Regions from separate parts of the Homo sapiens genome. Here all the other regions are linked to region 1. The links come from fine-mapping of genetic effects on gene expression. A gene starts in region 1. Each other region holds a variant in brackets. All regions are shown on one strand. Distances are between the middles of the regions. Region 1 holds the start of GCSIR (GPR55 cis regulatory suppressor of immune response RNA). Region 2 has its middle 5.8 kb from the start of GPR55. Region 3 has its middle 71 kb from the start of LINC01907.

Evidence for each region. PIP is the estimated chance that this variant, and not a neighbour inherited with it, causes the effect.
Region 2: its variant is the best candidate, but not a certain one, in a credible set for the expression of GCSIR in prefrontal cortex (CommonMind, PIP 0.87).
Region 3: its variant is the best candidate, but not a certain one, in a credible set for the expression of GCSIR in pituitary (GTEx, PIP 0.52).

Annotation. Positions count from the first base shown.
Region 1 is chr2:230,882,431-230,890,614 of GRCh38, forward strand. It overlaps GCSIR (GPR55 cis regulatory suppressor of immune response RNA), which reads left to right and starts at 4,116. Exons shown (of 4, transcript NR_038238.1): 1 at 4,116-4,539. RefSeq lists an enhancer at 3,479-3,548.
Region 2 is chr2:230,926,990-230,935,173 of GRCh38, forward strand. It overlaps a transcript of GPR55 not described here. Among named protein-coding and RNA genes, the nearest start is that of GPR55, 5.8 kb to the left of the region's middle. RefSeq lists a silencer at 2,418-2,547. The variant G/C (reference allele first, on the strand shown) is at 3,687.
Region 3 is chr2:230,625,881-230,634,064 of GRCh38, forward strand. No RefSeq gene overlaps it. Among named protein-coding and RNA genes, the nearest start is that of LINC01907, 71 kb to the right of the region's middle. The variant A/T (reference allele first, on the strand shown) is at 3,515.

The sequences.
Region 1 (8,184 bases):
TGCAAAGACACACCTATTCTTAGAACCAAAGACAATCTTGAAAATATGTCAATTTTCCATAAATTAGCCAATCTTAAACTCTACTAATTAGCCAATCCAGGTAATTCCTATCTTGGGTTTCTCTGTTCTGCTTTCTAATTGTACCATATATCCAAGAATCCCTGAGGAAGTTTTGCTTGGATCTGAACACTGTGAAAGTGGTAACAAAATACACATATTATTCTCTGACTTGCTTCCCCACCCTCCAAACCTTTTAAGCCGTGTCCATGTTGAAGCCTATGGTAATATTTCATTCATTTTTACTGTTGTATATTAGTTCATTGTATGAATATACAGCTTAATACCTATGAAACAATGACTAACCATGGCTCTTTGGATTTTTTTCTGATTTTTTTTTTTTTTTTTTACTATCAGAACGCTTTCATGAACATTTCTTTGATGGGGTTCCTGGGGCACCTCAGCACTGGGTCACACAGTGTGCAAATATTCAACTCATAAAATTCTAGCAGATTGTTTTTTGTAAGACATTGAACCAATTTACACTTCCAGCTGCACCGCATAGACATTCTACTCGTTCCACATCCTTGTCAACACTTCATGTTAGCAATACGTTTTTTGCCAATGGATAGGAAATAAAATGGTATTTCATTATGGTTTTAGTTGTGTCTCCTCGATTACTAGAAAAGTGGGGCCGGTTTCACATGTTTATTGAACCCTCAAATTTCCTTTCCTGTAAAATGCCGACTTGCTTTCTTTGGCCTATTTTTCTATTGGTTGCTTTGTTTTCTTACTAATTTGTAGGAGTTATTTATATATTTATACATTTTATATTTTACATATTTTCATTGATGGGTGGTAAGTATCTTACCCAAGTTAGTTCATGGCTTGCCTTCTCACCTTTTTTTTTTTTTTACAAACAGCATCACGTGTACATAGCTTTCTCACTTTCTTTGTGGTCACTTTGATGAACAGAAATTATTGATTTTAATGCAGTCAAATTTATTCATCTTTTTCCTTGTGGTTAGGGCCTTTTATATCATTTCAGAAATCTTTCCCATCCTAAGGTTGAAGAGGCATTATTCTACAATTTCTTCTATTCATTTTAGAGTTTTGTATTTTACATTTTTGAATCCCCAGGAATTTAATCCCTGGTCTGATGTGAGGTAGGAATAACGATTTGTTCTGTTTTTGTTTTTCCTTCCCCACTGAGTTACAGTATATGTCTGCAAGGATCAAGTTTCTCTATATGTAAGGTCTACTTCTGGGCTTTCTGTTTTGTTCATCAGGTCTATCCGTTGGACCATAACCACACTTAAAGTAAGTCTTGCTACCTGGTACTAAAAGTTTCCTACCTTGATTCTCTCCAGCAGTGCCATGCCTATTCTTGGCCCTTTTTGTTCATATGCATTTTAGAAACAACTGCCAAGTTTCATGGAAAATTCTGTTGAGGTTCTTTTTTTTTTTTTTTTTTTTTGTGACGGAGTCTCGCTCTGTCACTCATGCTGGAGTGCAGTGGCGTGATCTCTGCTCACTGCAAGCTCCGCCTCCCAGGTTCACGCCATTCTCCTGTGTCAGCCTCCCAAGTAGCTGAGACTACAGGCACCTGCCACCGTGCTCAGTTAATTTTTTGTATTTTTAGTAGGGATGGGGTTTCACCATGTTAGCCAGGATGGTCTCAATGCCCTCATGATCCGCCCACCTCAGCCTCCCAAAGTGCTGGGATTACAGGTGTGAGCCACCGCGCCTGGCCTTCTGTTGAGGTTCTTAATGGACTTATATGAAATCTATAGATCCACTTGGGGAGAATTGAAATCAGGATATTGAGTGCTCTCACCCATGAACATGGTATTTTTAAAATCTGCATTGTTAATGTCTTCCAACATAGTTTTATACTTTCCTCAGTAGGGGTCTTACAAATCTTTCATTACATTGATTCCTATGTCCCTTATATTTGTTGTTATGATGTTTAATAATTATACCTTTGTTGCCAATGTGTAGAAGTATAATTTATTTTTGAGTATTGATCCAGCAAACTTGCCGGGCTGTCTTTCTTATTCCACAAAGTTCTCTGAGGAAATTTTTTTTTTTTTTTTTTTTTTTGAGACAGAGTCTCACTCTATCACCCAGGCTGGAGTACAATGGTACAATCTAGGCTCACTGCAACCTCCGCCTCTAGGGTTCAAGCGATTCTCCTGCTTCAGCCTCCCGAGTAGCTGGAATTACAGGCCCATGCCACTACACCTGGCTAATTTTTGTCTTTTTAGTACAGACGGGGTTTTGCCATGTTGGCCAGGCTGGTCTCGAACTCCTGACCTCAAGTGATCCACCTGCCTCAGCCTCCCAAAGTGCTGGGATTACAAGCGGGAGCTACAGTGCCCAGCCTTGTGCTTTGTAGACAAGCAATTCTGGTAACTGATTATGAGTAAATTTTGTTTCTTCCATTCAAATAATTAAAACTTTTATTTATTTTTCTTGTGCTATCTTACTGGGTAGGAGCTCTGGCACCATGGTGATAGCCACAAATCTTGTTTTGTTCTTGATTTAAAAGGAAATTCACCTTGAATATAGTTTAGCTGTAAATATTAGAAGAATACTCTTTGAGATTTAAGAAGTTCTCTATTCTTAGTTTTCAAAGTGTTTTTATTTTTAATCAAGGATTGATATTAAATTGTTTTATCAAATGTTTTTTCTGCATCTATTCATATGTTTGCATATCTGTTAATGTGGCGAATATTGCTAACTGATTTAGTCATGAGGTATTTTCTTATATCTATGCTACTGGATTCCATTTGCTAACATTTTGTTTAGGAATTTTAGATATATGTTTTTTGTAACATTGGCCTGTAATGGGAGTAAATTAGTTTGACAAAATCAAATTTTAAAATGCAATGTTTTTGGCCCAGAATGTATCCTATGGATGTACTCCATAGGATATGCAAAAGTATATGTACAAGCATATTTATTGTTATAATAGCAAGAAACTAAAGACAAATGTCCTTTAGTTGGAGACTTGGTATTTTAAAAAAGTACAGTATTTTGTTGCTATTACAAAGAATGAGGTAGATCTATTTGTGCTGATGTGTAAAGTTCTCCGAAATCTATAATTAGGGTAAAGCAGGTGGCAAGAGCAAGAATATATATTTATCTCTATCCCGTTTGTGAATTTTTTAAGTGATAGCGCTATGGCTGTGCATGTGCTATTTCTGGAAGCGCACTCAAAGCCTTGTAACACCAGTTCCCTCTGGAGAGCAGGGATGGCAGGAAGCTGTAGGACTACGTCTCTTTCTACACCTTTTTATAATTCATAAGCATGAGCATGTATTGGTCTCTGTACACCTGCCCCTGGGCTTGAGGAGGCCCTGCTGGCTGCAATGTCTCACTTTCACCTAACTGCACGGAGTCTCAGCCACTTCCCTCCAGCCCTCGAGGACTGTCACCCATCCTAGAATGGAGGCCTTGCATTAGGCCCGGGTTTGGCCAGAAGAATAGAGCAGTTGGAAATGTTAAGTTGACATAAATAGGAAGCTCTGTAACCTCGTGCAAGTGTTGTCTTGGAAACCAGAGCCTGGGCGGTCTCCATGGAAACCGTGCTCAGCCTTCTGCCTGAAGGAGTTACCACCCACTGGTGCTGGAGTGTTACTTATCAGGGACCTCAGAGCTCCAATAACTGCTTAGGGAATGATGATGGACTGGTCCCTGCCCACCCTGGCCATGTCAGGTGTGGGGCCCTGGGCACCTCCAGCTCTCTGCCTGGGAAAGAAAAAGAGCCCATTTCCATGGGACGTGCCCTCATGGGGAGGCACAGCAGACCACCCAAGGCAGCACATGCAGTGTCCCCGAAGTAAGGAGGGAGTCCTGTGTCCCGAGGTCCCGGGGATCTGGACTCTGCCATTGTCCCCTGGTGCATCTGTACAGCTGTGGTGGGCTAACATCATCTCTGGGCTCCAACTTGCCCTTCTGTAAAATGGGGAGTTTGGACCAAGTCATTCTGAAGGTCTTTTCCAGCTTTAATGACACGTGTTTTGCATGTGACCTGGCAGCACAGGGTTCAGAGGAGGGAGAGATCAGAGTGACTAGTGCAGGCTTCCTGGGGAACCATTTGAGCTTTGAAGGTGGGGAAGAGGAATGTCAGAGAGTGGGCAAAATACAACAGGAAAGGTCCAAATTCACCCTCTGAGGGCCCGGGGCACGGGGGCAGCCTGCTCTCCTCCTGGGGCCCTGTTCCCTGTGGGGACTGGAAGAGAGGCTTTGAGTCTAGGGCCTGGGGCAGCCAGGACTGACGGGGGTGCAGTCCTAGAAGGGTCGGCAGTCACGGTGGCCCACCATGGCATCTCCGTATCCTTGCTGCATGCTGCACCCACTCCAGCTGCCAGAGCACGGAGGCAGAGACGTGGGAGCCGATGAAGGTCGCACGCCAGCCTCCCACCTGTGAGACAAAGGGCCCTGTCACTGGAAGCCACGTCCAGCCTGGCCCCGCAGGAGCCAGGGCTCTGCGCCTAACGGAGGACTGATGGGAAAGGGAAGGCTGGCAGCAGTGAGGTAATGGGGTGGGGGGTGGGGGTGGGAGGCAGGGGGAGGTGGGGAGGACAGGGAGGGGAGGGAGGGAAGGGGAGGGACTTTAGCCAGCACGCTTGTCCCACACTGAGCGAGTGCCCACAGTGTTCAAGCAGTCAGTATGCCAGCAGTTTTTCATTGATTACTTTTGTTCGTGTCTCGCGTTATCTCTGGGGTGAGTATGAATTTCATAGCCACAAACTCAGGTGTCCAAAGTATCTTTATTGGTATCTTTATTTTTCTATAATAGTGTGTTTTGTGTAATAATCTAGTTTTCAAACCTTCCCTTAGTCTAGTGGCAGAATGTGTAATCTTGATATTTTCTAGGTAAACTCGGTCATCACTTCAGTTTGCCCTTTTCAAAGATATTAATTTTTGCCCTCCCTTCCCCACCAGGGGCCAATCATCTGAATCACGTTCCTGTATTCAGGATTTGCCCCTCCAAAACAGTTTTGATGGGAGACACCAGCCACCTACTATTATGCAGCCATGCACCACATAACGACGTTTCAGGCAACAATGACTGCACATACCACAGTGGTCCCGTAAAATTACAATGGAGCTGAAAAATTCCTATTGCCTAGTGACGTCACAGCCATTGTAAGGTCAGAGTGCAACACATCACTCATGTGTTTGTGTTGATGCTGCTGTAAACAAACCTACCGCACTGCCAGTCATATAAAAGTATAGCCCATACAATTATGTGTAGTACTTAATACTTAATAATAATAAACAACTATGTTGCTGGTTTACGTATTTACTACACTGTGTTTTTAATTGCTAATAAGAGTGTACTCTTTTTAGTTATTAAAAAAAAAGTTAACTGTAAACAGACTCAGCAGATCCTTCAGGAGGTTTCCAGAAGAAGGCATTGTCATCATAGGAGGTGACAGCTCCATGCATGCATTGCCTCTGAAGTCCTTCCAGTGGGACAGGATGTGGAGGTGGAGATGGTGATACTGATGGTCCTGACCCTATGTAGGCCTAGGCTCATGTGTGTGTTAGTGTCTAGTTTTTAACTAAAAAGTTTAAAAGTTAAAAAAAAAATTTTTAATAGAAAAAAAGGGGGACTGGGCGTGGTGTAATCCCAGCACTTTGGGAGGCCGAGGCAGGCGGATCACCTGAGGTCAGAAATTCGAGATCAGCCTGGCCGACATGGTGAAGCCCCGTCTCTACTAAAAACACAAAAATTAGCTGGGCGTGGTGGTGCGCACCTGTAATCCCAGCTACTTGGGGGGCTGAGGGAGGAGAATAGCTTGAACCCAGGAGGCGGATGTTGCAGTGAGCCGAGACACACCATTGCACTCCAGCTTGGGTGACAAGAGGGAGACTCTGCCTCAAAAAAAAAAAAAAAGAACAAAAGACTAAGGGTACAAAGAAAATACTTTGTGAAGCTCTATGTGTTGGTGTTTTATGCTAAGTATTATTATAGAAAAGTCCAAAGGTTTTTAAAAATTGAAAAGTTTATAAAGGAAAAAAAAGGTACAGTAAGCTAAGGTTACATTACTATTGAGGAAAGAAAAAATCTTCCGTAAATGTGGTGTAGCCTAAATGTACAGCGTTTACAAAGTCTACAGCAGTGGTCGGTAATGTCCCAGGCCTTCCCATTCACTCACCAACCACTCACTGACTCACCCAGAGCAACCTCCAGTCCTGCAAGCTCCATTCATGGTAAGCGCCTTACACAGGTGTACCATATTTTTATTTTTCCTACCATATTTTGAACGATATTTTTCTATGTTTAGATACACCATTGTGTTGCGATTGCCTACAGTATTCAGTACAGAAACATGCTGCACAGGCTTGTGGCCTAGGAGCAACAGGATAACCCGTATAGCCCAGGTGTGCAGTAGGCTATGCCATGTAGGCTAACATGTATAGCCCAGGTGTGCAGTAGGCTATGCCATGCGGGTTTGTGTAAGTGCACCCTACGATGTTCACACAATGAAACTGCCTGACAATGCATTTCTCAGGACATATCCCTGTTGTTAAGCTGAATCTGTTTTTCCCAGTGCCCCTTGGGGCTGGAGTCAAGCATGTGACCAGGCTCAGCCAATCAGATGTTTCCTCTCTGTATTAGTCCATGTTCACACTGCAATGAAGATTCTACCTGAGACTGGGTAATTTAGAAAGGAAAGAGGTTTAATTGACTCACGGTTCCACGTGGCTGGGGAGGCCTCTGGAAACTTACCATCGCGGCCGAAGGCGAAGGGGAAGCAAGGCACGTGTTAGTCTCACATGTGGCAGGAGAGAGAGAGAGAGCACGGCGGGGAAGTGCCAGACACTTATCAAACAACCAGAACTCATGAGTGACGACTCATGGGAGAAACTGCCCCCCGATCCAATCACCTCCCACCAGGCTCCTCCCTTGATGCGGGGATTACAATGTGAGATGAGATTTGGGTGGGGACAAAGAGCCATACCATATCACACCCAGACCATGCCATAGGGACAAGTGACTCAGGAAGGGGGACAGTGAAAAATGCATCCTGGTAGAGGGGACAACAGCAACACAGAGTCTCGTGGGCATCAGGAAGGTGGTGGCATCATCTCCACATTCTGGAGCCCGCGGTTCCCTTTGTGGTCTCCCAATTGCTGAAGTGGTTTCTCCAGCCCACCCAGTGACTCTGAGCCACCCAGTGTCCCGTCAATCAATTCCTTTCTTCCTAAATTCACCAGAATTGTTCCCAGTGTTTGTGTCACAGTTTTATTGAACACGGGAGCCTTGTGGGGTGTAATCCGAAAACAATTCTTTCTCCCACTACCTTTTCAAGCCTGGTCGGTGGGTTGGGTTCTCCTCTGACCTTGGATGAAATTGAAGGTAGGTTTCTTGGTTTTTCTGGTCCATCCAAGATAATAAAAATCCCTTGGGTAACTTTTATTCACACAAATCCAATTTCAGTAATTACAACATCTAACTATCAAAACAGTTGAAACTCCAGATGGCATTTGAAGTTAAAACCACTCCCTTGCCCCATCCCAGACCTGCCCACATGGGAAGCCTACAAGGCGCGTGGGGAGCTTGGCGGGTTTCTCCTCCATGCCCCTGCCTCATGCTTCTACTTTTCCTCCCCTTCACTAGGCTCCTCGGCGCCTCCAAGTTTGGGACAGTAGCGTGAGGGCTTGGCGTCGGGCGTCGGAGCAGGAGAGGTCACTAGTTGTCTTAGTCGGTGTGTGTTGCTGTAAAGGAACACCTGAGGCTGGGGAATTTATAAGGAAAACGGGCTTATTTGGTTCACGATTCTGCTGGCTGGAAGACTGGGCATCTAGTGAAAGCCTCGGGCTGCTTCCACTCGTGGCAGAAGGCGAACAGAGCTGGCGTGAGATCACACGCAGAGATCATGTGGAGAGAGAGGAAGCAAGAGAGACACGGGAGGCAAAGGTTCTTTTTAACAACCAGCTCTCGTGGGAACTAACGGAGTGAAACTCACTTGCCTCTGTAGGAGGGCAATAATCTATTCATGAGGGTTCCAACCTATGACCAGAACACCTCCCATTAGGCCCCACCTCCAACATTGATCCAAACTGTAGCACTAGCATCACCAGTTCACCCTCCCTCAGGTGGATGCTCCATGAGAGTCCCTGGTCCCCGTCCTCACCACTAGCTGCACCTCAATGCAGGCAAACTCT
Region 2 (8,184 bases), 45 kb after region 1:
CCTGGCTACCTTCTTTTAAGAAATGAATATTTCTACTTTATTGCTGTTGCAATATTAAAATTTTTAAATTTTTAAATTTTTGAAAACATGCACATGATTCAAATACATATGTAAACACATATAGGAAAATATCTGTCCCACTCCTAAATCCAGCTCTCACCTACCCCCCAGGGCACCACTGTTAAGTTTCTTCCAGAGTTTCTGTGCCCGCCCGTGTACACCTGAGCTCTTATTTTCTCCCTCTTTTGACACAGAAGCTAGAGACCACACGAGCTGCTCTGCAGTAGAAGGCATTGTCCACCTCCCTCTCCTGTGGGTATCCCTTGGATACCTTGGGGGATATCCAAGGTATATGGGGGATCCCTTGCCAAGATACGTCTCCAGAGAGACTCAAAGGTTTGAGCTCCTAAGAGCAAGGCTAGGCAGGGACTCGCCCAAGGCCCCGTCCTAAGGCTCAGGCCTGTCCCTCGAGCTTTTCGCCTCCCCTTGCCACAGGCCTGGGGAGTCATAAATAGGAAGACCTTTCTCAGAAAATTTCCCTTAAGCCTCCTGAAACTTCTCCCCCTAGTCCTGCCCACCCTCTCACCATCCAGAATCACTTGGAGGTTTTGGGAGCCTGGGCAGGTCCCTGCCTGTCTTCCAGGCTGGGAGCCCCGAGTTGGGGGGTTTGGGGGCACACACCTTCGACTTCACCAGTGGAGCAGCTTCGGAGCTTCAGGAACCAGCTTCTTCTAGGGCAAGGAACAAGTGAATCTGACTGTGTTTATCAAAGAGCGGGTCCAGGATAGCTGGGCGCTCACCACATCCTCCCCTGACGCTGGTGAAATTCGCTCCTTCAGCAGCCAGAGGCCTGGCCCTGCCCTCGTGGGGCATCCTTTCCCTCCAAGGGGGGAAACCTGCCCACCAGGGGGTTTGCAGGGTGACCACTTGGCCCAGAGCTGTGCAAGAAGTGCTCCCAAGCCTGCCCCAGAGAGCTGGTCAGGGAACAGGGGCAGGGGCAAGAGCTGAACCCTAAGAGACACGGGGAGGGAGGAGGATGCTGGAGGAGGGCAGCCCAGGTGCAGGCACAGGCAGGAGGGGCACGGGGTTGGTGAGGGCCCGGGCACCCTCTGCACCAGGGTAAGGGGGGAATGGCAGGAGCCGAGGCTGGAAGCTGGCCAGGCAGGAACCAGGGGCACGGGCCGCCCCGGGGTCCCAGGGAACACACGCTTGGCACAGGGGCAGCATGTGACAGACCCACTGGGGCAGCAGGGGTTGGGTTGGGATGAGGGCACCAGCAGCAACAAGAAGGAATGAGGGCAGGAGTGGGGGCGTCAGAGTGTCTGAAAGAAGGATCCAGGGCATCTGAGGCAGCCGGACTCTGAAGATAGCCTCAGCAGGTCTCTGGCCGCCACTCCCCACAAAGCAGCTCTGTCAGCTTGGGCTGGTTGCCTAACCTCTCTGAGCCCATTTCCCCAGCCGCAAATTGGAGTTACACATCCATTCAATCAAAAAATGTTTGTGGATCATCTCCTAGGGACCAGGCAGTGGTGGTGAAGACAGATGACAGTACCTGTCTCAGAAAACGTTGTTTTAGGAGTCGGCATGGTAACAGGGGTAAGTGTACCCAGGAAGTGCCTGGTACTCAAGCAGTGACTGAGGCCCCCATTCCTCGTTGATTTATGCCTGCCTTTGTCTCCCCTGCTGGGTCTATTTGAAGGAAAAGAAAAAAAAAGGAGGAACATTGATAATGAGACCCTCATGATCCAAGGAAAAGGGGTCCTAAAAATCAGAGGAAGCCCCAACAGAGAGAGGAAGGCAGGGGAACTCAGGAAGAAGAGGCAAAGAGAGGAAGATGAGCAGCACCTGCCCCCACCCTCTGCTCCAACCCTCCAGGTGCGGCCTGGAGACAGACTCAAAGGGTTGAGCTCCAAGAGCTGGGCTAGGCAGGGACTTGCCCCAGGCCCCATCCTATGGCTCCCCATCTGGCCTCTCCCCTCCCATTCTGCCGGGAACACTTCTGTTCCCAAGCCCCACTTCTTTATTTTATTTTATTTTTTGTAAAAATAGAGATGGGGTTTTGCCATGTTGCCCAGGCTGGTCTCGGACTCCTGGACTCAAGCGATCCCCCACCTCGGCCTCCCAAAGTGCTGGGATTACTGGTGTGAACCACTGCATCCGGCCACCAAGCCCCACTTAAACATTGAGCCCGGATGACTCCCCTGCACGGTCAGCTGGGTGCTATACCACACGAAGCCCGTTCCTGGAGCCTTTGCCAAGTCCCTGAGGACTGACACCCTGCCCCCTAGGTGCTCACAAAGACAGGAAGGTGCGTGCCCCCAAGCCCCCCAACTCGGGGCCCTGATAATCCCCCTTAGCAATTGAAGATGTCTCCTTGAAAGTGGGCCCATGGTGGCTGAGGTCAGTGATGCTTAATGTCAAGGCAGAAGGGAGTAAAACACGCAAGGGGGCAGCAACTGTCCAGAATGCAGCCTTCCCCTCCCATGTCACCCCACGTGCCCCTCTGTCACTCACTGGAAATGTAACATCAAGGTTACAGGAGAAGGTTGCAGATGCTCAGATATCTGTGCCTTCTGTTCTTGTCATGATCCAGCCAATTCTTTTAGAGCCACCAAGCTTCTCCCTGCAGTCATCCTGCCCATGGCTGTTGATGGCCCTGATGGGGCTTGGAGCCCCCAGAATGTGCAGAAGTTGGACAAAGGTGGTCTTCAAATGCAATGGTTGTCTTATCACCGAAAGCCCACGGCATCCAGAGGAGGCCCTTTACTACGAAGTTTACAGAGAGCACAGGTCTCTGTACGTCCCAAGTTTCCCCTGCTGCCAAATGCAGGGGAGGAGAGAATTCTGGAAGCCCACCCTGTCCCATGGCTCCCCTGGCACATGGAGCCACTGAATGTCTTGTGAACATTAAACAAATGCTTCCAAGTGAACACCTCTGGCTCTGTCTCATCCAGGTCCTCCTGAGGCCCTCCTGAGGTTTGGCGCTCAAGGGAGCAGAGTCCTGGGCTAAACCCTGGCAACAGCTTCCCAGCATTCCCTCCACTCCCGCCGGGCAGCCAGGACCCCCCCGCCTCCCACCTGGGCCTTGGGGCCAGGAGTCAAGGAATGAGGGGATTCTGCTCACCTCTGAGTACCCCCTCTGGCCTCCCAGCAGCTCCCTGTCCAGGCCACCAGGTCACAGCTACTGAGCTACACTTGTTTATTTCTCAGGGACACGGGGATAGGAGTGTGAGCAGATGGTGGACCCTTTTGAAATACTTATTTTCTTTTATGTTTCCTGTTGCATAAAGTGTACTATTTCCTTTGCCCACATGCCCATCAGGAGCCTAATATTCTGTTTTCCACTTTAGCTATTGAATTCCTATTCTTCTTACGTGTTGAGTCTTTTCTCCCTACTTCACCCCTTCCCACCTCCCCTACACACAGACATTTTTATCTTTGGGTTTTTTGTTTTGTTTTTCTTTTCTTTCTTTCTTTTTTTTTTTTTTAGACAGAGTCTCACTTAGGCTGGGGTGCAGTGGCATGATCTCAGCTCACTGCAACCTTCGTTTCCTGGGCTAAAGCGATCCTCCCACCTCAGCCTCTCAACTTCCCAGGACTGCAGACACGTGCCACCACGCCTGGCTAATTTTTGTACTTTTGGTACAAAATACAAAGGCATTGAGAGGTTTTGCCATGTTTCCCAG[G/C]CTGGTCTCCAAGTCCTGAGCTCAAGCAATCCACCCACCTCAGCCTCCCAAAATGTTGGAATTACAGGCTTAAGCCACTGCGCCTGGCTCAGTTTTATCTTTGTTTTGCGGCATGGAAATTGTTAATTGTGTCGTTCGTCTCCATGAATTATCCTGTAGCACTTTAATAATGAACCTATCTTCACCCTTCTGTAGTTTGAGTAACTAGGACATTCATTTCCTTCCTGAAAGTCTTTTATTTAATTCTGATTTTTAAAAAGTATATATTGGGGTGGAAGGTAAAAAAATCTTCTCCAATACTGAGGGGCTGACAGGTGAAGGCTATGGGGAGGTCCCCACCTGCCCTACCTACCCGCCACTCCCCCGGGAACTGTGCCAGCACTCACACCCTATTCTCCTGCAAAACGCTTTGTCCTGAGAGCCTTACCCCACATGCAGAGCTACCACCTCTGCTCTTTAATGCCATCAAATATCTTCCAGGGCACACCACACTCCAGTACCTGGCTCAGTCTTCATCTCCACCCCAAGTCCTCCCGACTCTTCAAGGAGACGTCATTGCCAATGGTGACAGCTCCCTCCAACACTGACCCTGCCTGTCCTGAGGACCACGCCGAGGGCAGTACACTTTACAAATTAAGTCTGTTCATTCTCCAAACACCCTGGGAGGTGCAAACGATCAACAGCCTTGTTGACAGAGGAAGAAATTGAAGCACAGAGGGCTGGAGCCCTGTGCCCAAATGTGCACCACGAGCTTGATGCAGAGCTGGGATTGGGCCTAGGAGATGGCACCTAGAGAGGCCGATTTCTACCTGTCCCACCTTGCTGAACCCTCACCAACCCCATGAGGCAGGACCCACAGGCACTCCCACTTTACAGGGTGGAAATGGAGGCATTGAGAGGTTTTGGCAACTCGCCTGATAAGCCCACTTGTTAAGACGCTGAGCAGGAACACAGTGCACCTGCTGCTGCCACAGGCCCCGACCGCTGCACCCACGAGGGCCCCACTTCACAGTCTGGCCTCACGGTGCGACCTCCTGCTGCTCTCACCCCTGCCCATTAGCCCCATCCCCATGAGAGCATGCGGGGCCCCTCTGCTCCCCTTCCTTCCACACCCTGAGTGGTGCCCCACTCCACTGCCCGGGCCACCCCTGGCCCAGTCCATTCGCCTGCTTGCCCACTCCACCCCAGCCCCTTTAGCCCATGGACAATGCTCCTGGAGCCAAAGGGAACCATCCAAATGGCAGTCTCAGGGCACCAGCACCCCTCACCCCTTCCCTGGTGGTAGGGCAGCCCCACCCCAGCCCGGTCCCGTCGAGGCCACTCCACACCTCAAGGCCTCACCTCCAGCTCCTCACCATCCCCAGACAGCCTGGCCTCCAACTTCACAGAAAAAAATCTCGGTTCTGAGGCGTGAAGCTCCAGCTCCTTGTCCTACAAACCAGCCGCGGTCTGCACCCAACCAAGTGACAAAGGTACTCTGCTGCTTAGAGAAACACCTCCACGCCACCAGCCCGCCGACCTTCTCTGGGCGCCTGCCCGTCAGGTGGTTGCAGCTGTTTGTGGGAGGCATCCAGAGGGCAGGAAACATGTTAGAGGAATTCACAAGATTAAAAACTCATTCCCTACATAATTGGTGCTGAAGGCAGAAAATTACCACCGGCTGGATGGATATTGTTTCTATCATCTAAGGTGACTAGAAGTCTTAATTTGTGCATTATATCATTTTGAAATTACAGAGATTTCTGTAAAGGTACATTGCATTCTGTTACATAATGCACATAACGTTACATGAAGGGGAAGCTACTATGGAAGGAAAGTCTTCAGTGTTCATTAAAATAGTTGGATCTACACCTCTTCTAAATGAAGACAGCATGGCTGTGAATGTTTATATGATAAAGGTACATAAAGCTCCGAACAGAAGGACATGTTCATTACAAGGACAGTCTCCACGTGGGGCTCGAAACTGGCCAGGTCCTGCCTCTTCCAGCTGCCCAGCTGTGCCTGCATGAGCCCCAATCTCTTGCTTCGTGTCTGGCCGTCATCCTAAACCAGGCCTCTCTCCCACTCTTGCACCACCTCCTCGCTTCCTGTGACAAGGCACACCCTGTTCTAGCCCAGGCTCGGCCTGGGACTGCCTCCATCAGGGCCTCAGTCTGCACATCCCTGTAGCTGTGCTACAGGCAGGACTGCTGCTCTCTCTCTCTCTCTCTTGCATGCGCTCGCTCTCTCTAATTCTCTACATGTGAGGTCACAAGGACAAATCCTAAGGGAACAGAAGCCGGACTGAACTCTGACTTCAGAGCCCCAGGATCGTGCTCTCACGCTGATCTTTGGCAACGATGAAGGGAAAATGGGTCTGCTTTCACCCGGCTGCTTCCAGCCCACTCCTTTCCCTGCCCCTTCCTGCCTCTTCCCCCTTCCCTGCTACCCTCCATCACTGCCTTCTGGTCCTGTGCCCTGTCGCCTCCTGTGGGCCTAGCCAAGCCCCTGAAGTCCCCTGCCCCGCCCAGCTCCCCCCTTCCCTCCGCCCTCTCTGCCTGGCCTGCCTCTCTGCTCTTCACTCTTCCTGTGCTCTTGACTTCCCTTCTGGCCTTTCTCTGGCCTCCAGCCACCTGGGCAGACTGCTCCACTGCCCCATCTCCCTCCCATCCGTCCACCGCATCCTCCACCTGCCCTCCGTTGGCCCTTCCTGCAAACCGTCTCCTGGGACCCTGATGTCCCTGCTAGGGGAAGTCAGGAACCTACTGAACACACGGGGCAGCCCATGGTGTGCAGCTGCTGGGCAGCCTGGCAGGCCCTCCAGGAAGCCCCCATCTCCAAGGGAGCTCTCAGCCACCTGGGGACTGGCCTGTGGCAGTGGGTGGCTGTCCCTCCTCAGGTTGGTCCACAGGCCAAAGAAACTAGAGCAACCTCCTTTCATGTCCACCCTCAGTCCCCTTAGGCTTTCAGAGCGGCCATAGAGGTGGTGGCTGGACTCAGGGGACTCAGGGCCTCTCTCCTTACAGGGCTTGCCTCTTATCCAGGAGCAGCAGCCCCTGCGCCGGCAGCATTCCCCACTCCTGGAAGTCAGCGTCTCCAGGAGGCAGGGCGGGGGCTCCCTTGGCAGGGCAAAGGCTGCCTGGGTGGGGGCAGTGACAGCAGCGGGATGAAGCTCTGCTGTGGGGGTGGGAGATGCAGGATGCAGGGGATGTGTCCGCTAGGAGAGGCATTACCAGGTCTTCCCCAAGAGCTCAGCCTCTGAAGTTCTTGACTTCAGTTTCTGAGGCCACATCTGCAGTCACCCCAAAGCTTCCGGTGACCACCCCAGAGGTGCTGGGTCAGGCTGTGGTCACTTCCTGCCTCCCTCTCCTCGCCTCTATTGTCACCTGGGCTCAGGGTGCTTTCCTTGCCCACCTTTTCAACCCTCCTTTCCAGTGCTAATAGACTGGACTGTCCCCCAGGGGCACTGGCCTAGGTATATGGGCCGCTTATTTGGAGAGACCCCTCCCTGCACTGGCTGTTTCTCCACCTGCCCCTACAACACAAAAGGCTGACAGAATATGGTGATTTCTAACCCAGCCCTGGCCCTGGAATCACAAAACCTAGGTCTGCATCAGGGCCAGCACCTCTCTGCACCTCTCTCACCAAAAGCTGTGGAACGAGCACCGAGTACTGATTCCAGGTTTCTGGTCCCCGGCCTCTCTCCGACCCCAGCACAGCTGCTCTTTCTGCCCCTCAGGGATGGGGGTTAGTTCCCAGGACCAAATGTGAGATGACCACCTCTGTGAACAGCACAAGTATCCACTGAAAGCCCCAACCCTGAGCTCTTGGTCCCAGGGGAAGGAGGACACAGGTCAGAAGAACCAGGGACAGCCAGCCTGACCCAGCCCAAGTGCTTAGCAAAATGCTTAGAGCCCGGCCGCCTCCCTCCCCGGGGCCCACTCCATGCTGACTCCTGGTAACCTCTGGGCAGGAGTCAGCCTCCCCTGGGGAAGATTAGCATCCGGACGCCTCGGGGTGGCCCTGTTTGCTATCTGGGGTGGGGTGAGGATGACCATCTGTTCTGGTTTGCCCAGAATGGATGGGACTCCTGGGGGGACTCTGGACCTTCAGTGTTAAACCCAGATAGTCCCTAAGAGTGAAGAGCCGTCACTGCAGGTCGGCAAGGGAGCTTTGGGGATTAAGCCCTCTCTTCAGTCGGGGTTTCCCACCCTGACTCCACCCACCAAGGAAGGGCATTGTCCTGTTGGGTTGGGCTTCCCCCACCCCCACCCAGGACCCCTACATTCTGCTGACTGCGCCCAGGGTGCCCAGAGCCTCTCTGGCTGCCAGGACACACATGGGTTACCTCCTTCCTACCACCTGGACAAGTGACACACAGGCCCCTTCATGCCAGAGACACACGGGTCTCAGAGGAAACGCCTGGGGTGGGGGGCACTTTTCCTCTCCCTCAGAGATGGTGGCAGGACCCGCAGCCTCAGCACCATCGTGACCACATTTCCAAGAGAAGGCTCCTGGC
Region 3 (8,184 bases), 260 kb before region 1:
AATAATGTCACTGAAGGCTTTTTGTCATCTAAGCTGTGTAAAATTACTGAGGAATAGTGAGGAGTGGGGAACCAGGGAAGCAACCCTGCTGACAAATTTAACCCTACCCAGGACAAAACAAAAACCTGCAGGGTTTCTCCTACTGCACTGTGATGCTAGAAGATACTGAATAAAGAGATGCGCTTTAGGGTGAAGGGACATATTAAAGGGGTTTTGGTTACAGAAAGATAGGTATCTATGCTTAGTCTGGTGGGCCTGAAGAGAGATGAACTGGAGGAAAACATTTCATTTCTTACGAGGCAGCTGGTGGAGAAGAAAAGGAAGGAGCCCAGCCAGCCACCTGGCACTCTATGCAGAGACAACTGGGAAGATGCTCCCTGGCTCAGGACCCGACAGAACTCCCCTCCACTGCCTCGAACCTTCAGTATAAGTTTGGTACATGCAGCATTATGGGTAGTTTTCAACAAGGCAGTGTGGGAGACAGGCAGAACTTCCCAGGGGAGGAAAAGATAGAGGACTAAGGAGCAACAGGAAAAATATAAACCTTCCAAGAATATCCAGGGGCCTACTATTAGTGGAATAATGGCTCAAGCTAATGATTATTCATTCACCCTTTTATTCAACCAATATTAACTGAGTGCCACCTACATGCTAAGTACAGTCCAGCCAATGTGCACCAGTGCAGGAAAACCAATTGTGCACATTCCTTCCCAACTCCACGTTTAGTCATGTCATGTTGGTAGTTTGAAGTCAGCCATGGTAGGAATATTGGCACCATAGTAATTGGCAAATGCTACAAATCAGAACTTTTTTCCCCTCAGAGAGTTGGTTTGCCACTAACCCCTGGCCAGCCACTCTTTTGGATACTGAGAAAAGAGCAATGAGCAAAACAGACAAGGTTATAACCCTAGAAGAGCATATGTTATAGAAGGGAAAGATCAAAGAATTGATTGATTGATTGATTGATTGATTCACAAGCTATTTTCGAATGGTGAATAGGGCTAGGAAGACAAGAAAAAGGGGTGACTGATAGGCTGCAGAGGTTGGGAAGATCTCTTTAAGGAGGTAACACTTGCCTGGATGCAGTGGCTCATGCCTGTAATCTCAGCACTTGGGGAGGCCAAGGTGGGAGGATCGCTTCAGTCCAGGAATTTGAGACCAGCCTGGGTAACATAGCGAGACCCCGTCTCTATAAAAAAAAAAAAAAATGTTTTTCAATTAGCCAGGCATGGTAGTGTGTACCTGTAGTTCCAGCTACTCGGGAGGCTAAGGTAAGAGTATCACTTAAGCCCAGGAATTCAAGGCTGCAGTGAGCTATGATTGTGCCACTGCACTCCAGCCTGAGTGACAGAGTGAGATAGATAGATAGATAGATAGATAGATAGATAGATAGATAGATAGATAGATAGATAGATAGATAGAATGGGTGCAGTGGCTCACACCTGTAATCCCAGCACTCTGGGAGGCCAAGGCAGGCAGATCACCTAAGATCAGGAGTTCAAGACCAGCTTGGCCAACATGGTAAAACCCCGTCTCTACTAAAAATACAAAAAACATTATCTGGGCGTGGTGGCACACACCTGAAATCTCCGCTACTCAGGAGGCTTAGGTAGGAGAATAGTTTGAACCTGGGAGGCAGAGGTTGCAGTGAGCCAAGACTGCGCCACTGCACTCCACCCTGGGCAACAGAGTGAGACTCCATCTCAATAAATAAATAAATAAATAACAGAGGTAAGCAACACTTGAGCAGTGAAATGAATTTTTTAAAAGAAAATCATCCCAGCAGTTTGGGGTTATCTGTAGAGCAGGCAGCTCTTTGTAGCATGCTGTTATAGTCTCCCATCGTAAAAACACCTTCCGGCCGGGTGAGGTGGCTCACGCCTGTAATCCCAGCACTTTGGGAGGCCAAGGCGGGCAGATCACGAGGTCAAGAGCTCAAGACTATCCTGGCCAACATGGTGAAACCTCGTCTCTACTAAAAATACAAAAATTAGCTGGGCGTGGTGGCGCATGCCTATAGTCCCAGCTACTCAGGAGGCTGAAGCAGGAGAATCGCTTGAACCCGGGAGGCGGAACCTGCAGTGAGCCGAGATGCACTCCACTGCACTCCAGCCTGGCGACAGAGCAAGACTCCGTCTCAAAAAAAAAACCTTCCCCAGCCCCTCCCTCTTTTCTCTCCTTGCCTTTATAGCCAGCTGCTCCCAAAAGAGGCCTCTGTTTATTTCCTCCAATTCCTCCTCTCCCTGCTTGCTCCCACCACTCACCAATACCACTCTTGTCAAGGTCACGAGCAAACTTCATATTGCTGAGTCCTGTGGTTGACTTTCATCCTTTATCTGACTGAAGCTCTTGGCAGCACTTGACAGAACCAGCCACTCCCTCCTCCTCACATATTGTTTGCATTTGGCTTCCAGGACGTCACCCCTCCTGAATTCCTCCCATCTCACCAGCTGGGCTTTTTTTTTCTTCAGTCTCTTTTGCTGGTTCTTCTCTAAACCCCTGACCTCTAAATGCGGAGGTGTCCCGGCCTCACTTTTTGGACCTCTTCCCTTTCCTGACTATACTTCTTTTTCAGAGACCTCATCCAGCCTCACAGCTGTAGGTTCCAGCTCCGTGCTGATGAGTCTCAAACCCACGTCAGCTGGCCAGACCGCTCACCTGAACATCCACTGCTTACTTAACATCTCCACCTGGAGCCAGAGTGATCCTTTAAAGTGTGATTTGTATCTCATCACTCCTTTGCTTCAAATCCTCCAATGGCAACACAGTGAGGCAAAGATAGTCTTTTTAACAAATGGTGCTGGAACAATGGTATATCCATGATATAGTCTGGCTCTGTGTGCCCACCCAGATCTCACCTTGAATTGTAATAATCCCCATGTGTCAAGGGTGGGAGCAGGTGGAGGTAATCAAATGACGGGGGAGGTTTCCTCCATGCTGTTCTCCTGATAATGAGTGAGTCTCACAAGATCTGATGGTTTTATAAGCCTCTGGCATTTCTCCTGCTCGCACTCACTCCATCTTGCTGCCCTGTGAAAAAAGTGTCTGCTTCTCCTTTGCCTTCCACCATGATTATAAGTTTCCTGAGGCTTCCCCAGCAATGAGAAACTATGAGTCAATGAAACCTCTTTCCTTTATCAATTATCCAGTCTCAGGTATTTCCTCATAGCAGTGTGAGAACAGAATAATACAATCCACTTACAAAAAATGAATCCAGACACAGATCTTACAGCCTTCACAAAAATTAGCTTGAAATAGATCACAGCCCTAAACGGAAAACGGAACACTGTAAAACTTCTTCCTATGATTTAGGTGTTTGCACCCTCCAAAATTCCTGTTGAAACTGAATCCCCAATGTGGCAGTATTGGGGCCTTTAAGAGGTGATTGTGTCATGAAGGTTCTGCTCTCATGAATGAATTAATCCATTCATGGATTAATGGATTAAAGGGTTAATGGATTAATGTGTTACTATGAGAATGAGACTGGTGGCTTTAAAAGGAGAGGAGAGACTTG[A/T]TCTAGCACATTCAGGCCCCTCACCATGTGATGCTGTGCACCACCTTGGGACTCTATGGAGAGTCCCCACAGCAAGAAGGCCCTCACCAGATGCAACCCTTCAGGTTATGACTTCTCAGCCTCTATAACTGTAAGAAATACATTCCTTTTCTTTATACATTTCCCAGTTTTAGTTATCCAGTTATGAGCAACAGAAAGTGAACTAAGACACTCCTAGAAGATAGGAGAAAATCTAGATGACCTAGGGTTTGGCAATTATTTTTTTAGATATATCACAAAAGGCACAATTCATAAAAGAAATAATTGATAAGCTGGATTTCACTAAAATTAAAAGTTTCTGCTCTGTGAAAAACACTGTCAAGAGAATAAAAACAGAAGCCACAGACTGGGAGAAAATATTTGCAAAAGACAGATCTGATAAAGGACTGTTTCCAAACTTTATATATATATATATATACACACACACATACACACATATATATATGTACATATATATACATATATACACACACATATATACATATATACATATATATACACATATATACATATATTCACATATATATGCACATATATACACATATATACATATATACACATATACACATATATACACATATACACATATATACATATATACACATATATACACATATACACATATATACACATATATACATATATATACGTATATATACACACACATATATATATATATATATTTTTTTTTTTTTGAAATGGAGTTTTGCTCTTTTTGCCCAGGCTGGAGTGCAATGGCGCAATCTTGGCTCACTGCAACCTCTGCCTCCTGGGCTTAAGCAATTCTCGTGCCTCAGCCTCCCATGTAGCTGGGACTACAGGTGCGTGCCACCACACCTGACTAATTTTTTTTTATTTTTAGTAGAGACGGGGTTTCACCATGTTGGCCAGGCTGATCTTGAACTCATGACCTCAGGTGATCTACCCGCCTCGGCCTATCAAAGTGCTGGGATTACAGGCATGAGCCACTGTCCCTGGCTCAAAATTTATATATTTTATATAGAACCCAATTGAAAAATGAGCCAAAGACTTTAGCAGACACCTCACCAAAGAAGAGGTGGCAAATAAGTATACAAAAATGGGCTCACATCATATGTCATCAGGAAAATGCAAATTAAAACCATGAGACACCTTTATACAGCTATTAGAATAACCCAAATCCAGAACACTGACAACACCAAATGCAGGCAAGGGAGTGGAGCAATAGGAACTCTCATTCATTACTCGTGGAAATGCAAAATAGTACTATTGCCTTGGAAGACAGTTTGGTGGTTTCTAAACATACTAAACATAGTCTTTTACACAAAACTAAACTTACTCTTAACATAAAATCTAGCAATCATGCTCCTTGGTATTTACCCAAAGGAGTTGAAGACTTATGTCTACACAAAAGTCTGCACACCAATATTTATAGCAGCTTTATTCATAACTGCCAAAACTTGGAAGCAAACAAGATGTCCTTCAGTAGGTAAATGGGTAAATAAACTGTGGTACATCCAGACACTAAAATACTATTCAGAGCTTAAAAACAAACTGTCAAGCCATGAAAAGACAAGGAGGAAACTTAAATGCATATCACCAAGCGAAAGAAGCCAATCTGAAAAGGCCATGTACTGCATGATTCCAACTATATGACATTCTGAAAAAGGCAACACATGGAGACAGTGAAAATATCAACAGTGGCCGGGCACGGTGGCTCACGCCTGTAATCCCAGCACTTTGGGAGTCTGAGGCAGGTGGATCACCTGAGGTCAGGAGCTTAAGACCAGCCTGGTCAACATGGTGAAACCCCATCTCTACTAAAAACACAAAAAGTAACTAGGGTGGTGTTGGGTGCCTGTAATCCCAGCTACTCAGGAGGCTGAGGTAGGAGAATTGCTTGAACTCGGGAGGCGGAGGTTGCAGTGAGCCGAGATCGTGCCACTCTGCTCCGGCCTGGGCAATAGAGCAAGACTCAGTCTCAAAAAACAAAAACAAACAAACAAAAAGATTAATGCTTACCAAAGTTTAGACAGGAGAGAGAGATAAAGAGTTGGGGCCCAGAGGATTTGCAGGACAGTGAAACTAGTCTGTATGATACTATATAGTGGATACATGTTATCGTACATTTGTCTAAGCCCATAAAATGTACACCAAGAGTAAACCCTAATTTAAAACTATGGACTCTAGGTGATTATGATTATCATTGTAGGTTCGTCACTTCTAACAAATATACCCCCTAGTGGAGGATATTGACAGTGGGGGAGGTTGTACATGTGTGAGGCCATGGGGTATATGAAATATCTCTGTACATTCTGCTCAATTTTTCTGTGAACCTAAAACTGCTCTAAAAACTAAAGTTTATTTGGCCCGGTGTGGTGGCTCATGCCTGTAATCCCAGCACTTTGGGAGACCGAGTCAAGTGGATCATTTGAGGTCAGGAGTTCAAGACCAGGCTGGCCAACATCATGAGACCCTGTCTCTACTAAAAATACAAAAATTAGCTGGGCGTGGTTGCATGTGCCTGTAATCCCAGCTACTAGGAAGACTGAAGCATGAGAATCACTTGAACCAAGGAGGTGGAGGTTGCAGTTAGCCAAGATCGCACCACTGCACTCCAGCCTGGGTGTCAGAGTGAGACTCTGTCTTAAATAAATTAATAAATTAAATTTTAAAATAAAAAGTCTATTAAGGCATTAAAAAAAAAATCCTCTAACAGCTCCCACCTTGCTCAAAGTCAACACCAAAGTCATCCAAATGATCTACAAGGCCCCCTCCCTGTACTTCTGTGACCCGCTCTGGATTCATTGAAGACCTGCTTCATTGTAAGAGCGTTAGGAGGAGTGGGAGACTAAGGCTGGCCTAGTTCAGTTTCCCCGCTCCCCAGACAGGCCTGAGCAAGGGCTTGGGAGCCAGGCACTTATGTGAAAGACAAATTCAGGACCCACATATGATGGGAGTAGGAGAAAAGCCATCAGACGGCCCATTTGTGAGGGGGTGGACACGTGGGGTTCCTCCCACCGGGAACCCTCTGGGTAAGCATCTAGAACCCACCTGTGGCGGTGGGGGGCGGGGGGTGCAGGCTGCTGAGCCTCTTTGTGCTCTCTCCCATCCTTCCCTGGTTGGTGGTTGTTCCGGGGGCCATAACTGTTGGGAGTTTCTCTTTCTCCAGCTTGCAGTCCTGCAAGCCCCCATGGCATCTGAGAAAACTCCCAGGCACAGAAGGGTTGAGCCAGGCACTTGGGAAGGATGTTGCCGGATGTTGGAGACCTCCACAGCCTCTGGTGGGGAACTGCCCAAGGTCCAAGCCAGGGGGAGGGCCTATCCCGCCTCTGATGGCTGGAGGCTCTGGATATCACCAAAGATTTGAAAATTTGACTGTGTCTACAGCCATTCCACCCTGACAGAGTGAAAGTACTGCATATATTTAATAGTCTTAAGGATAAATACAGAGAGTAGTTAAAAGTATAAACAAATCAATGAGAATGCTAAACACTAGATTCAGAAATATTGTTGCCACTGAAAGAAGCGGCAGGAGATGTGGTCTAGGAAGCCTCAGTTGTATTAGTAATTCTTTTTTTTTTTTTGAGATGGAGTCTTGCTCTGTCGCCCAGGCTGAAGTGCAATGGCACGACCTCGGCTCACTGTAACCTCCGCCTCCTGGGCTCGAGCAATTCTCCTGTCTCAGCTTCCCAAGTAGCTGGGACTACAGGCACACGCCATGATATCCAGCTAATTTTTGTATTTTTAGTAGAGACGGGATTTCACCATATTGGTCAGGCTGGTCTCGAACTCCTGGCCTCAGGTGATCCACCCACCTCAGCCTCCCGAAGTGCTGGGATTACAGGCGTGAGCCACCGCACCCAGCCATTAATGTTTATTTTTTTAAGTGGCTGTTCATTATATTTTTCTCTATACATTTTTATATATTTGATGTATTACATTGTTATTTTATTATTGTTGTTATTATTATTATTTGAGACAGAGTCTCACTCTGCTGCCCACATTGAGCGCAGTGGCACAATCATGGCTCACTGCAGCCTTGACCTCCTGAGCTCAAGCAATCCTCTCACCTCAGCCTTTCAAGTAGCAGGGACTACAGGCACATGACACCACACCCAGCTAATTTTTTTTTTTTTAAGACTAAGTCTTGCTCTGTCGCCCAGGCTGAAGTACAGTGGTGTGATCTCAGCTCACTGAAACCTCCACCTCCCAGGTTCAAGCGATTCTCCTGCCTCAGGCTCCCGAGTAGCTGGGATTACAGGCACACGCCACCACGCCCAGCTGATTTTTTTGTATTTTTAGTAGGGATGGGGTTTCACCCTGTTGGCCAGGCTGGTCTTGAGCTCCTGACCTCAGGTGATCCACCCACCTCGGCCTCCTAAAGTTCTGGGATTACAGACGTGAACCACCAGGCACAGCCAGCTAATTTTTTAATTTTTGGTAGAGACAGGGTCTTACTATGTTGCCCAGGCTGGTCTTGAACCCCTGGCCCCAAGCAATCTTCCCACCTAGGCCTCCCAAAGTGCTGAGATTACAAGTGTGAGCCACTACACCCAGCCTATATAATTATTTTTAAACAAATATTTAAATTATTCAGAAAATTTTTGAAAAGGAAGAAAAATGAGAGGATTAGACTTGCTATATATAAA